Linked DNA regions of Homo sapiens: region 2 is linked to region 1. Evidence: fine-mapped expression QTL. Tissue or cell type: whole blood. Region 1 holds a variant in brackets; the other region holds the start of a gene. All regions are shown on one strand. Distances are between the middles of the regions.

Evidence for each region. PIP is the estimated chance that this variant, and not a neighbour inherited with it, causes the effect.
Region 2: it holds the start of ALDH9A1, and the variant in region 1 is fine-mapped to the expression of ALDH9A1 in whole blood (TOPMed, PIP above 0.99).

The regions. Positions count from the first base shown.
Region 1 is chr1:165,726,853-165,734,943 of GRCh38, forward strand. TMCO1 (transmembrane and coiled-coil domains 1) reads right to left here. Exons shown (of 7, transcript NM_019026.6): 7 at 1-1,269. The coding sequence ends at 1,171. Among named protein-coding and RNA genes, the nearest start is that of ALDH9A1, 32 kb to the left of the region's middle. The variant C/T (reference allele first, on the strand shown) is at 3,466.
Region 2 is chr1:165,695,116-165,703,218 of GRCh38, forward strand. ALDH9A1 (aldehyde dehydrogenase 9 family member A1) reads right to left here and starts at 3,447. Exons shown (of 11, transcript NM_000696.4): 1 at 3,263-3,447; 2 at 137-282. The coding sequence starts at 3,443. It also overlaps the pseudogene CA14P1. RefSeq lists enhancers at 3,183-3,412, 3,256-3,838, 3,703-3,882 and a silencer at 3,443-3,632.

The DNA of each region.
Region 1 (8,091 bases):
TTGATACTTATTTTCCTCAGCACTTTGAAGATACTTTTCTACTGTCTTCTGGACTTTATGGTGCTGATAAGAAAGAAGTTTGCTGTTGGTTTAACAATGATTACCTTGAAAATTATGTGTTTTTTCTCACTGGTAGAATACTCACATTTAAGTAGACATTTGATGAATGTGCATATTTATTGATAAGACTCCACACAGGACTCCTAATTCCATAGATTATGCGGGGAGGATCATGGTACAAACATCCTTCTCCCTTATGAAGGGGCATGGCAGAAAATGAAGGCTATTGTGACTAAAAGGAAGCTCTGCGAGATTAACAACATATAACTATAACCTTGTCTCCAAGGGAGATCTAAGAGTGCCCCCACAAGAATCTGAGAGACTGTAATAGGATATGAAGAGAACAGCTGAGGACCCTCATTTTTATTTATTTATTTATATTTAATTTTTTTTCAGACATCAGTGTTACTTGCCAAGACCCTCATTTTTAAACTCCAACGAGTTATTACGTTCCTTTCCACTCTTGCTTTCCAATTCCTACACCAAGACAACTCTGTATTTTGAGTATATGAGTCAAGTATGGCAAAAAGTACAGTACCTTAAAAACTTTTATTTTAGTCCTTCCTGGCCCATGCTAAAACTTATATCTAGAAATACGGCAAAACAAAATGAAACAGATCTCTCCTTGTACATAAAACAGCTAAAAATTTGGCCTCTTTATTGATCTTATGTCATGTATTTGGCTTGAAAAAAAAACAACAACAAAACAAACAGTTACAAGGGTTAAACAAACTAAATTTTTCTTCTAAATCTCTAAATGCTCATAGACAGCCAACTTGCAGGGCATACACAGTGCCTTGAGAGTCGGTCCCACAGAAAATACTTATGTAAATGAAACAAGAAGGATGCTATTTGTTTTTCATTACATAAACATTACCTGAACTTAACTAATCAATCCACTTATTTGATAAAAATCATCTAGGACCAAAAGCACTATCAAGTTTGCTGGCTGCCATTTTCACTCTAATCATACCCAAAAGGCTTAGAAATAATTCAAAACTAGAAAGAGGCCCAAGTAGTAAGGCTACCTATGGCTCTTGCTACAAAACAGTTGCCAGTCTGATGTGTGTGTGTCTAGAAAGAATGATAGAAAATAAAGAGTTCTTGAGTTCAAGAGAACTTCCCAGAAGGAGGTGGTGGGCCAAGAAATCCACCTGCCTGCTTGGTGGCGGCTCGTGAAGGGGCAAGGCCGAGAATCTTCTGAATGTTCTGTGAAGAAAGCACAGTAAGGATTGGGTTTTAATATCAAATATACAGAAGATGTGTTTTATGTAGCTCTCAGGCAAAGGGAACTCATACTCATATAGATTAAAGGAACCATTATGACCTGCAATAGGATGATTATCACTTTTTTTTTTTTTTGAGATGGAGTCTCGCTCTGTCACCCAGGCTGGAGTGCAGTGGAGCAATCTTGGCTCACTGCAAGCTCTGCCTCCCAGGTTCACGTCATTCTCCTGCCTCAGCCTCCCGAGTAGCTGGGACTACAGGTGCCCGCCACCACACCCGGCTAATTTTCTGTATATTTAGTAGAGACAGGGTTTCATCATGTTAGCCAGGATGGTCTCGATCTCCTGACCTCATGATCTGCCCACCTCGGCCTCCCAAAGTGCTGGGATTACAGGAGGGAGTCACCGCACCTGGCAATCACTATGTTATTTTTTAAAAAGGCCTACAATGTAATGAAAATCATAGAACAGTAAAAGCCTTCCTTACCTGATGAGACCTTGGTCTACTAATGAAAGTGGTTGATTTTTTTCGAGTAGAGAATCATAAAAGGAGATAATTTTTTTAACAAGAAGCATATGAAGAATATTCATTAGCTATTTCTTATGGGCATTTTCTTTGAGTACGGGTCTGCTGGCTGGATTTGTCATTACTGCACTGTCTATAATTTTCAGTTTCGGCCGGGTGTGGTGGCTCACGCCTGTAATCCCAGCACTTTGGGAGGCTGAGGTGGGTAGATCACTTGAGGCTAGGAGTTCAAGACGAGCTTGGACAACATGGTAAAACCCCATCTCTACTTTTTAGTAGAAAAATACAAAAATTAGCTGGGCATTGTGGCATACACCTGTAGTCCTAGCTACTCGGGAGGGTGAGGCATGAGAGTCCCTTGAACCTAGGAGGCAGAGGCTGCGTGAGCCAAGACTGCACCACTGCATTCCAGCCTGGGCAACAGAGTGAGATTCTGTCTAAAAAAAAAAAAAAAAAAAAAAAACCAGTTTCAATTTCTTTACAGTGTTGAAAGTACTCAGAAACCTGCAAAGCACTCTGAGTTCAGAATTCTCCTAAATTTTCAGGACCCTGTCATCTTTTTCCATTGTTTCACCTACATCTAATGCAATTTTTTAAGAAACTCACTTTTATACTTTTATTCAGTTTTTAAAAACATACTTTGTTCTCATAATTCTTTTTTTTTTTTTTTGAGATGGAGTCTCACTCTGTCATCCAAGCTAGAGTACAGTGGCACGATGTCGGCTCACAGTAACCTCTGCCTCCTGGGTCAAGCGATTCTGCCTGCCTCAGCCTCCTAAGTAGCTGAGATTACAGGTGCCTGCTATCACACCCAGCTAATTTTTGTATTTTTTTTAGTAGAGAAGGGGTTTCACCATGTTGGCCAGGCTGGTCTTGAACTCCTGACCTCAGGTGATCCGCCTGCCTCAGCCTCCCAAAGTGCTGGGATTACAGGCATGAGCCACTGCGCCCAGCCAATGTAGCATTTTATAAGAGGAAAAAAACCTTAGAGATCCTGATTATTCTTGCCCAGTTCCTTCATTTTATATTTGAAGAAACTAAAACTCAGAAAGGTATGATGGATGGCTTATCCAGAATTACAAAGCTAAATTAAGAGCACAGTTAGAATTTAAACCTGTTGTGTTTCGACCCTTAATCTAATGGATTCTCTTACACAGTAGTTTCTGTGTTAAAGTTCTGCTCTTCAGAACAAACTCCATTCTGTGGTAGGCAGGTTTGCATGCATTAAACTATTCATCCAGTAGTTACTGAGTACCTACTAGATATAAGATACTGTGAGAATATCCATAACCAGGCTTCTCTACAAGCATACACACCCTCAATCCTTCATCATGAAGAATGATGACTACTATGGATAAGAATGTGTATTGAGGACGGCCGGGCGCGGTGGCTCACGCCTGTAATCCCAGCACTTTGGGAGGCCGAGGCGGGCGGATCACGAGGTCAGGAGATCGAGATCATCCTGGCTAACACGGTGAAACCCCGTCTGTACTAAAAATACACACACACAAAAAAAAAAAAATTAGCCGGGAGAGGTGGCGGGCGCCTGTAGTCCCAGCTACTCAGGAGGCTGAGGCAGGAGAATGGCACGAACCCCAGGGGGCGGAGCCTGCAGTGAGCCGAGATCGCGCCACTGCACTCCAGCCTGGGCGA[C/T]GGCGAGACTCCGTCTCAAAACAAAAACAAAACAAAACAAAAAAAAAAAAAGAATGTGTATTGAGGTAACACTGTTAGAATACAACAGAATGTTTAAATATGGAGGACATAACTTTAAGGACTCATCTAAATTATATTTACCATAAAATATTTCAGTACATACATTCAACAATACTATAGCTCATTCTTTAAGAAGACATCTGAAATGAGTGAAGAAAAAAATCAATCGTTAGTACATTAGGATACCTCTCCTTAGTAAAGATGGAGAATGATCAGACTTTGTATTTCTTTTTCTGAGACGTGGTCTTGCTCTGTCACTGAGGCTGGAGTGCAGTGGTGTGATCACAGCTCACTGCAACCTCCACTTCCCGGGCTCAAGCATTCTTCCCACCTCAGCCTCCCGAGGAGCTGGGACTAACAGGCATGCCACCATGCCCAGCTAATTTTTGCATTTTTAATAGAGTTGGGGTTTTGCCATGTTGGCCACGCTGGTCTCAAACTCTTGGGCTCCAGTGATCTGCTCACCTCAGCCTCCCAGGTGCTGGCATTATAGGGGTGAGCCACTATGCCCGGCCTACTTTGCAATACTTTTTTTTTTTTTGAGACAGAGTCTCGCTCTGTCGCCAGGCTGGAGTGCAGTGGTGCGATCTTGGCTCACTGCAACCTCCGCCTCCCAGGTTCAAGCGATCCTCCTGCCTCAACCTCCCGAGTAGCAGGGAATACAGGGGCACATCATCATGCCCAGCTAATTTTTTGTATTTTTAGTAGAGACGGGGTATCACCATGTTGGCCAGGATGGTCTCGATCTCTTGACTTCGTGATCCGCCTGTCTCAGCCTCCCAAAGTGCTGGAATTACAGGCATGAGCCACCGTACCTGGCCTGCATTACTTTTATAATAAAAATAGCTCCTTAAAGCTCACCTCTAAAAAACCCATTACACAAAGCAGTAAAAAGACCAAATGATGTCACTAGTTTGCAATTTCTTTATTTAATTAATATTTCCTGAGCACCTACAATGTATTTAGCACTAAGCTAGGCATTAAGGGAAATTGCTTTAAAGATAAAATTTGAAACAGTAAGACATACAGAATTAGCTGCTGATAAACATATTTGTCTAGTTAACAAATACAGTAATATAGCCTAGACAAAATACACAAGGGATTCTTGCTCAGTTATTCTGAAGGGTCAAATAGATGAGTCCTTATCATTTTAGAGATTAAAAACCAATGTAAAAATGTTGGATGCCCTTTATAGGTTTACCGTGATTTAAAGAAGATGATTGAAAAAATAAAAAATAATATTTTGAAGAAACAAGAAACTGAACTGGTAGTCTGTTGAATTTCATTTACTAACTCAAAATATTTAAATGACTACTGAGGGTAAGCCACTGCTCTAGACGGGAATATCTCAAATAGCAATAGCAGCAACAAAAAAGTGTTAAAAATGAGACACTTCAGTAGCCACAGCCAAAGTACATGGAAATCCAGGCAACTCTATACTTTCCTTTACTCTATACTTTCCTTTCCTTGTGGCTCTTGCCACAGACCCGTTTTGGGAACACTAAATTAAATGTATCGGTGTTACATTACACAGGTATTTGTATTTTAACACAAACATTCTGCATTTACTGCATGCAATTTTATCCTTTCGTGAAATTCTAAACTAATCTGTTTAAATTCCTATAGTCTCACAGGTGAAACCTAGGTCTTCCATTTTTCTCAGACAGATTTCCCCTGCTTTTCCATCAGTGAAATCTTTTCCCCTAAAACCCATGTAGGAACTAAGTGATGGTCTCAAGATGCAAGAGCCACAGGTAAAAGGACCAGACGTCACTAATATCTCTACAGTAGTAACATCCTACATTTCTACACACTTTAAAGTTTGCAAACAGTTCTAAGGACTAGATAGTAGTCCTTAGTTATCCCTGCTGTTGAGATGAGAAAGTTGATGTAGGGAGAGGTTACAAGTCAGAAAGTGAACTGATATAACTCAAAGTGCAGTTTTCCTTTATTAAGCCACCTCTCTGTAACAGACTGTTATCTTAGGAATAAAAAAATCACATAAAGAAGCAAAAAAAAAAAAAAAAAGGAATAAAAAATCGTGTAACAGGCCTATTTTTTTAAAAAATCACAATTATGCTGTTAAATGAGCAAATGGTTTCTCTCTCTCTCTCTCTCTCTCTCTCTCTATATATATATATATAAACATACACATATAAAATATAGTTGCTATGCAAAAAACCCATAGAATGTACAATGCAAAGAATGGACCCTAACATAAACTATGGATTTGGGGGTAATAATTATATGTCAGTGTAGATTAATCAATTGTAACAAATGTACCACTCTGGTGGAGAAAGTTGATAGAGGGGTGTGCTATGCATATGTGGGGGCAAGGCATATATATGAAATCTCTGTACCTTCCACTCAATTTTGCTGTGAACCTAAAACTGTTCTAAAAAATAAGGTCTATAAAAGGGAATATAAAGTATTTAAGAATATATAGTAAGATAACAGTTGTATTAATAATAGTTGTATACTTTTTCTCATATCTTGCCTTCCCCAACTTTTTGAAATACTGCTAAATGGAATACTTTTAAAATAAAGAAAAATATTCCTGTGGGTGCTATTTTAAAGTGAAGGTCATAGTATGAAGCTAAAAAAAAGAATAACAACAATAATAATGGTTAACAGTTACTGAGTACTTACACTCTGCAAGGCATTGTTCTAAGACCTTTATATGTATGTCCTCATTTAAATCCTCACAACTTAATGAGGTGGACATCATTATCCTTGCATGTAGATAAGAAAAATAAGATACCAATGGTCAGGCTGTAATTCAATAAATACTCACTGAATACCACACTGTACAGCAGGCACTTTTGTATATATTATCTCATTACATCTTTCAACAATCTCATCCATTAAACTTAACCTGACTGCTTTCCTATAATCTCTCAATTTTTCTTTCTTCTTGAGGTCAAGTTTTCAGGCCTTGTTAATTAGCAAGATTTAGTTTAGAAATATGCATTTAGGCCAGGAGTGGTGGCTCACACCTGTAATCCCAGCACCTTGGGAGGCCGAGGTGGGTGGATCATCTGAGATCAGGAGTTTGAGACCAGCCTGGCCAACATGGTGAAACCCGTCTCCACATGCGCCTGTAATCCTAGCTACTTGGGAGGCTGAGGCAGGAGAATCATTTGAAACCCGGGAGGCAGAGGTTGTAGGAGATCGTGCAGCTGCACTCCAACCTGGGTGACAGAGCAAGACTCCATCTCAAAAAAAACAAAAAAAAAGAAAGAAATATGCATTTAGCTAAAAGATAGGAGTTTTAATATATAATAAAGATGCTATGAAAGAAAATAGAAATGCAAAATATAGTAAGATGCAATCAAGTTTTGGAAAAATGTAAAACAATTATTTTGAATTCCTGTCCAGTCCTGTATAACAGGGTAACAAATGAAGAATGTATACCCAGAAGAGAAAAACAAAGGAAAAACATTTTCCCATAATTGTGTCTTCTACTGGCAGGAAAACCTGAAAAATACAAACACAGGATTTGTGTTCTTTCCTCTTTACCATGATTAAGAACCAGTGATCAAGAAACGGAAGTTGTTGGTTGCTAACTGGATATTTTGGGAAGACCCAGGTCAATGGCAATAAACACATTCTGCTGAATTTTATTCCTTAGTCATTTAGCTAAAATAACACACCTATGGCAATCCTCAGTTCACTCTGTTAGTTTCTCTGACATCTGGCAACCAGTCTTCACTTCCAATTAATCGCAATATCTCATTAATTCCCACAATGTAATCTTTACTCTATCAACAAAGCTGTATATAAAATCTAATCACTTCAAAACGACCCTTTCCAATATTACCAGGGCTCTCACATTATATCTGACTAGACTATTTGGGAAAAATAATGTAGAGATTAAATATTTACTAAAAAAACCTTATCGTACAAGCTTGATATCGCTGAAATATTATTGGGTTAGCAATCAGAAAACTTGGGTTACAGTGCTGACAAACTAGACAATAAAACAATAGGAGTATCTTTTCATTTTACCAAATCTCAATGTCCTTACTGTTAGAAAAAAGAGGGTTGACTAGATCAATCATTTTCAGACCCTTAAAGCCTTTAATAACTCTTTTATTTTTTAATTTTTAAAATAAATTTCTATTCTTTTTTATTTTTATTTTTTGAGACGGAGTCTTACTCTGTCGTCCAGGCTGGAGTGCAGTGGTGTGATCTCAGCTCACTGCAACCTCCACCACCTCCTGAGTTCAAGCAATTCTCTTCCTTAGCCTCCCAAGTAGCTGGGATTACAGGCGCCTGCCACCATGCCCGGCTAATTTTGTATTTTTAGTAGAGACAGGGTTTCACCATCTTGGCCAGGCTGGTCTTGAACTTCTGACCTCGTGATCCACCTGCCTTGGCCTCCCAAAGTGCTAGGATTACAGGTGTGAGCCACCGCGCTCGGCCCATCGTTTTTTGTTTTGTTTTGTTTTGTTTTGTTTTTTTGCACACAATTCACAGAGATTAACAGAAGCCTTTTGAAAAATAAAATGTGATGTATAAAAGCCCAATACAGAAAACAAATAAAATAGGGTAGAAAACGGAAGC
Region 2 (8,103 bases), 32 kb before region 1:
AGGTGAGCATGTGGAAATGTTTTTCCATTTTATAAAAACGTTACGGCCTAATGTTGCAACAAAGTCGAACTGCAAACATCACAAAGAAACCTCAGAGCAATGTCTGAGTTCTGGAAGGAAATAAATTGGAACATACCCTTATTATCCTGGCAGCCTCCAAAAGGATTCGGCAACGCTCCATGCCAGATTTTTGACTCCATATTTTAAAAGCAGCCTTTGCATTTTGAACAGCCAAATTTACTTCCTTTTCTCCTGAACATGTGAAAGTAGCTATCACTCGGCCTATAAAGAGCGGAAACATCAGTTTTAACTCAAATTGTTGCCACATATTTAAATAAAATATTATCTATCAATATTCTCTTAGTAGTAGTCTTTTTTTTTTTTTTTTTTTTTTTCTTGAGATGGAGTCTTGCTCTGTCACCCAGGCTGGAGTGCAGTGGCGCGATCTCGGCTCACTGCAACCTCTGCCTCCTGAGTTCAAGCGATTCCCCTGCCTCAGCCTCCTGAGTAGCTGGGACTACCAGTGCACGCCACTACGCCCAGCTAATTTTTTGTATTTTTTAGTAGAGACCGGGTTTCACCATGTTGACCAGGATGGTCTTGATCTCCTGACCTTGTGACCCACCCGCCTCAGCCTCCCGAAGTGCCGGAATTACAGGCGTGGGCTACCGTAACTTCTTGTTTTTATGTATGGTTTGATTTAGTGACCATCTCTATACTAGCAGGTTTTTTTGTTTTGTTTTTTTGTTTTTTAAGACGGAGTCTCGCTCTTGTTACCCAGGCTGGAGTGCAATGGCACGATCTTGACTCACTGCAACTTTTGCCTCCTGGGTTCCAGCAATTCTCCTGCCTCAGCCTCCCGAGTAGCTGGGATTACAGGCGCCTGCCACCACACACAGCTAATTTTTGTATTTTTAGTAGAGACGGGATTTCATCATGTTGGCCAGGCTGGTCTTACATTCCTGACCTCAAGTGATTCACCCACCTCTGCCTCCCCAAGTGCTGGGATTACAGCCATGAGCCACCACACCCGGCCTAGCAGTTCTTAACTGTATTTTGCGGTCATTGACATTAGGAGTCTGATAAAAGTTGCAGACCTCTCTCCAGAAAAATCTACTTAAACATATAACAGAATTACAGGAATGTCATGTCCCCTGCCCTAAACTCATCAAGGATTTAGAGTTAAGAACCCCTGCCCTCTACTATTTTACAGTTGAGTTTACTAACATTAACTTCTGATTAAGTTTTGCAACACTCCTAAACATTATCTCAGAATCTCAGGGGTCTTGTAAAATGAAAGTCAAAAGTAATCAGTCTATTGGGTTATAAACTCTGACTGTAAATCCCTTGTCTATATTCTATGTAGGTTATATCATACTACTTGATACTTGATAAATATAGTTAATAAGCAGTAATATCAGGATAAGGCAACCCTAAAGGAACATTTTTTTTTTCTCAAAAATTCCCAGATTTCCTTTTCTTATTCCACCTTTATTCCCTCTCCCTATTCTGGTGCAAATTATGAAACAATCAGTTTTTCTAGGCCCATAGCCCAAGGACTGTACTGCCTCTACCAACAAGAATTCTTTAAGTTTGCCAACTCAGCAAATCCTCTTCACAAGAACTCCTGGGACTCTTTCCAGGGAGATTTCACAAATCTGCAATTTCTGTTACAAACTTGAATAGCCAGCTGGTAAAGGCGGTGGCTGAGGATCACACACACTGTAGGCAATTAAAGCAAAGAGCAATTTTTCTTTCTTTTGTATCAGGATTAAGTCGGGGTAGAGAAGCTGTTTCCTCCTATATAAAGAAGAGATGTGATAATGCCTTCTGGCTCTGCCAAGTCACTGCTCTGTGGTTTAGTGTGGATGGTCAAATACTAAATTCTCCAGTCCCCTGCAAATCAGTTTTATTGCTCTGGCTACATTTTACACAAAATATTTACATTTTTCTCCCCACATATATTCCATAAAACCCAGCAAAATAAACACAACACAAAACCAAAACAAAAAGCCCCTTCTTCCTTATCTCTGTGACCTTCAGAGTTCCCAGAGTAAATCCAGTGCCTAGCACAGTGCTTAGCACACATTAAGCACTGGATTAAAAAGTTTTATTTCAGCAAGATGAATAAATTGTGGAGAGCTCACGTAGACCATGGTGACTATGGTTACCAATACTGCATCATATACTTGAAATTTGCTAAAAGAATAGATCTTAAATATTTCACTATCCAAAAAAAGCCATTAACTATGCAGAAGCAATGGATAATTAGATTGACCGTGGTAACCATTTTGCAAGGTATACATACATTACAACACGTTTTACACCTTAAGTATATACAATTTTTATTTGTTAATTATACTTCAATAAAGCTGGGGAAGAAAGTACTGAATAAAGGTGGGGTTTTTTCCTTTCCCAATTCTGATTAATGTGCAGAAATATTTTAATATTAGAATGTGGAGACAAAGTCCTCATTCGTAGTCATTAGAAACTATCTGTGAGCGTTCCTTCATTCCCAGCACAAATGATTATCTTCCCCACAACCCCGCCCCGTTCTTTTAGAATTCCTCTCCTATGCACACATTTGAAGACAATAATACATCAGTCCTGGTTTTAAAAGGGGGAACAGTTGGCTGGGCTTGGTGGCTCACGGCTGTAATCCCAGCACTTTGGGAGGCTGAGGCGGGAGGATCACCTAAGCTCAGGAGTTCGAGACCAGCCTGAGTAACATGCTGAAAACCCGTCTCTACTAAAAATACAAAAATTAGCCGGACATGGTGGTGGGAGCCTGTAATCCCAGCTACCAGGGAGGCTGAGGCGGGAGAAGCACTTGAGCCCGTAAGGTAGAGGGCGCAGTGAGCTCTGAGATGGTGCCCCTGCACTCCAGCCTGGGCGACAGAGTGAGACCCTGTCTCAAAACAAACAAAAAACAAACAAACAAACAAAACAAACAAAAAAGGAAGTTAACAGAGGCACGACTTCCCCCACCAGTACTTTGCGAACTCTGTTCTGGCCCGGGTAAAACAACTCACGATCCTACCACGCAACTCATCAGCTTTGCTTTTCCTCCCTACCCATCCCTGCCCGGAGGCACTCGCGTTGCCCCAGAATCGCTAGTTGCCTACACACACAACCTTAGACTCTCCACTGTCACTGTCTTGTGCTCAAGTCAACGCTGCAGAACACAGGAAACGGGGGCTGGCCGGGAAATCCGCGCATCCGGCCCCAGGGCGCCCCAGCCTCCCCGGCTCGTTGCAGTTACCGGTTGCTGGCTCGAAAGCTTTCTCGGTACCGGAGGCGTCCGCCGGCTCCACGCGGGCCCCGCCGCGGTAATTGAGCGGCTGCGACACGACGAAGGTGCCAGTGCTCATGGCGGCGACAGGAGAGGGCCGAAGACTGCGAAGAAGCGGGGAGAGCGCGGCCAGGCCTGCTCGGAGAAACATGAGTGGCGGACGCAGCTCCGCGGCAGAGGCTGACGGGCCGCGGGAGGGGCGGGGCCGCGGGAGGGGCGGGGCCGCGGGATCGGTTCTAGGAGATTTTAGGGGCAGTCACTCGATTCCTCTGCGGTCCAGGCCAGGCCCTCCCCTCGCCAGGAGGGTGGAGCAAGACACCACATTCTCCCCACCACCCCGCCATACCCCACACAGTCTCCAGGCGGGAAGAGGACTTCCTTCTTCGTGATCAATATTTGCGTAGCACTTTGCAAGTGTTTTCGGGTTCATCATTGCATGTAAGCATCCTAGGATCCCATTCTTAATCCTATCGCCTGAAGAAGGCAGAGGATTGGAGTGCCAAGAGTCTTTGGTGGTTACTTCACTGCTAAACCACCGTTTCTGTAATTGTATAATGCTTTTTAAAGGGTGACAGTAAAAAGCAAGGGGACTGTGAACGAGATAGATGATATTGTGATCTGAAACTGCTTTTTAAATTCTTAAAGAGAGACTGGGCGCTGTGGCTCTCACCAAGGCTGGAGGATCGCTTGAGCCCAGGAGTTTGCGGGCAACAGAGAGAGATCCCGTGTCTATAAAAAAATAAAATAAAAATAATAAAAATTGGGCCGGGCGCGGTGGCTCACGCCTGTAATCCTAGCACTTTGGGAGGCCAAGGCGGGCAGATCACCTGAGGTCAGGAGTTCGAGACCAGCCTGACCAAAATGGTAAAACCCCGTCTCTACTAAAAATACAAAAATTAGCTGGGTGTGGTGGCGGGCGCCTGTAATCCCAGCTACTTGGGAGGCTGAGGTGGGAAAATCGCTTGAACCCGGGAGACGGGTTGCAGTGAGCCGAGACTATGCCATTGCACTCCAGTCTGGGTGACAAGAGTGAAACTCAGAAAAAAAAAAAATTATCCAGGTGTGGTGGCACACGCCTGTGGCCCCAGGTACTTGGGCGGCTAAGGTGGGAGGATCCCCTGAGCCCCGGGGGTCCAAGCTTGCAGTGAGCTATAATCGTGCCACTGCACTCAGGCCTGGGCAACAGAGCGAGACCCTGTCTCAAAATAAATAAATTCTGAAGGAGCAATGTAAATGCTATTAATGACAAATATTGATAGAAACAGAAGCCTAACATACAGAATACGAAGAGCAAAGGCCACAGGAAAAAGTGTCAGGAAACAAAATGCCTTCTGTAAGACAAAGCAGCCACCCAGAGGCACTCACAGGTCTGTCAGCTGAGGGATCTTGCACAAAGGTTCATTCTTCTCACCAAACTTCCATGCACCTCCAGTAGAGACTTTGACAAACAGAAAGTAATTGGCAATTTGGACATTTCTTTTAGGATTGTTTCTCTTCTGGGGGCTGCTGTCTTTCTCAATGTTTTTTCCTTTACCTGCCAGCTCACCAGCGCAATATTAGGGAGTGTGGTTTTCAGGTTTAGAGTATATATAATGTATTCTGATCAAGTTTTCTGGCACTCTATACCAGTTTGTTCACTTTTTCAGTGCTACTGAGATGTGTAGGTCTTGGTCCTCAGATGGAAACAGCAGTGCCCAAACTCAGAATACCTGAGGCCACACTCACATATTATTTTATTATTGTCCATTGCAAACAGAATTGAAACATATCAGGAGTTGGTGACGAGCAGCACTATAGATTTCCAAGATCACTGAATGGTCATTTAGGTACAGAAACTATACGTCTCAAATTTTATGGGACAATTTCTATTTAAAAGATTCTGTCCCCAACCAATGCATTTTGACTTGTCACATCATAATTCCTGATGTTTGTTTTGGAAATGTGGTCGTGATGTCTATTGAATTAATTCATAGATGATAAGACTGACAAACCTCTGGCCAGGCACAGGACTCACACCTGTAATCTCAACACTTTGGGAGACCGTGGCAGGAGGATCGCTTGAGGCCAGGAGTTCAAGACCAGCCTGGGCAACATAGTGAGACTCTGTCTCTACAAAATATTTTTAAAAATTAGCCGAGCATGGTGGCACAAGCGTGTAGTCCTGACTACTCAAGAGACTGAGGTGGAGGATTGCTTGAGGCCAGGAGTTCAAGACTGGAGTGAGCGATCATGGCACCACTGCTCCAGCCTGGGCAACAGAGTAAGACCCTTCCCCAAAGAAAACAGATCTCCTCCAAAATATCTACCTTTTAAATATCTAGCTGTTCCTCTTACCTATCTGTGCTTTTATTATTAAATTATTATTTTTAACTTTTAGGTTCAGGGGTACATGTAAAGATTTGTTACATAGGTAAACTTGTGTCATGGGGGTGTGTTGTATAGATTATTTCATTACCCAGGTATTAAGCCTAGTACCCATGAGTTATTTTTCCTGATCCTCTCCCTCCTTCCACCCTTATTATTAGATTATTAATGTATTATTTTTCATTAGCAAAATCCAACATGTAGAAAGAGCTTTATAGGTTACAGAGCCCTTTCACATTTACTTTCTCACATGAAGCTCATAATAACCCTACAAAAGAAAAGGAAACTAACAGAGATTGAGCTAGGAGGTAGTATGTGGCACTTTGTCAAATATCTCAGTGACAATCATGCAAGATAGGTTTTATCATCCCCATTGTACAGATGAGGAAACTAATAGAAAGGTCGTAGAGCTTCCCCATAAAGGAGCTAAGGCTGGAGTCCAGCTCTGTGCAAGTCCAAAGTAAATTTCTTCTTACTACACCAGGTCGAGATGTTGACCCCATGAAGGTTGCTATCAAAATTCACTCTTATGTTGGTGGATATTTATCAGAAACCCAGAAATCTGGTTCTAGGGAGATTTAAAGGACATGTAAACTTCTTAGGATATTTGTCAGCACTACCCAGTAAGCAGCCCAGAAGTCACAGAGGATGCTGGCCAGTTTACAAGTTCAGGGTGAAATTCAAAGGGACAAAGATGCCACAAGGAGCAGAAGGAATGCCAAAAGAGAAACACCTCTTAGATGGGTGTGTGTTGGAGGGCAGATTTGGGGGTAAAAAGAGATAGAAAAGGAGTGGAATCATTGCTAAAGGGGTAGAAGATCCAAGGAGAAACTGCCTGCCTCACAACTTGCTTAAAGCCAAACTTGGGTGCCACTAAAGCCCCCTCCTTTTCCACATTTCCTTCCCCAGACAACCAGAGGAGGAAAAGAAAAGCAACTGGATCCCCTTCTGCCACCTCCAGGTCTCCTAAAGGAAGAAGTCCTTGGGAACCCATACTGTGTGATCCAGGGTCCTTCACTGGCCTCTCCCTCAGGTCATCCAGTTGTCAATTTGTTGCTTTGGCTTAGTTTCACCATTAGCAGTACTCTTCTTGGACACAACCTCCAGAGTAAAAGCAAATGCCGGATGCGGTGGCTCACACCTGTAATCCCAGCACTTTGGGAGGCGGAGGTGGGTGGATTGCCTGAGCTCAGGAGTTCCAGACCAGCCTGGACAACATGGTGAGACCCCTGTCTCTACTAAAAATACAAAAAAAAAAAAAAAAAAAAGCCAAGTGTGGTGGCGCACACCTCTAGTCCCAGCTGCTGGGGGGTTGAAGCGCGAGGATCGCTTGAACCTGGAGGCAGAGGCTGCAGTGAGCCAAGATTGCAACATTGCACTCCAGCCTGGGCGACAGAGCAAGACTCGCTCTCCAAAAACAAAAAAAAAAAAAAAAAAAGAAAGAAAAGATCTTTAGGGAGTACTAGCTCTTAGTCTGTCCTCTAGAACTATTAATACATCAAACACACACACACCACATTTATTTTTATTTCCTGAACAATAGTATGTTTACTACTGTTGCAACTCCTTCAGTGGGGAGCCAGAAAACCATCCACACAAAAAGAAAGGAAAAAATTACTCAGAATCCTGTTCCTGCCCATTTTAACAGGGCCTTTCACTTAACAATAATTTACAGATTGAATTTTATTTTAAGCCTGAGTGTCCTCACATTCTTCATATACAGAATGTAATTTTCTCACTGAAGACCTAACAGGTTTCCTAATCTAGGCAGCCTGACACTAGGATTAGGTCCTTAATGAATATTTGTTGAATGAACACATCAGTCAGGTGTTACAAACCAGGACTTTGAAATCACTGCGCTGATGAGGATGTCCCCTAATGCTACTTAGGCATCTCTGCTTGGATAATCTAGTCTTTTTCATTTTTAACAGCTTTTTAGGCTATAATACTCATATTTTCAAAAATAGGTTTAATTTATAAACCTGAGGTAATATGAAACAGTATGTGAAAGTGGTCTAAAAATTAGAAAGCACTATACAATTGCTATTATAATAACAATGTTCATAGTTTGCAGTGCCTTCGTGTTTTTCTCAAATGAAATTCAGGGTCATTGACTTTGGAATTTGTTCTTGGAGTTGATAATCAGCTAGAGGCTAAAGGCTACTGAGCTTACAGAAAAATTTAGAATCTGTCTGTTATCTAAGACAGTAGCATTATATAGAAATTATTCCAACTCTTCCAAATGTATAAGATATAAAAATGAGAGATTCAGAAGGTTTTTTTAAAAAAAGGATATGATTTTTGTTTTCTGGGAAAGGATCTCACTCTGTCATCCAGGCTGGAGTGCAGTGGTGTGATAACTTCTCACTGCAGCCTCAATATCCTGGGATCAATCAATCCTCCCGCTTCAGCCTCCTGAGTACCTGGGAAGACAGGTATGTACCAGG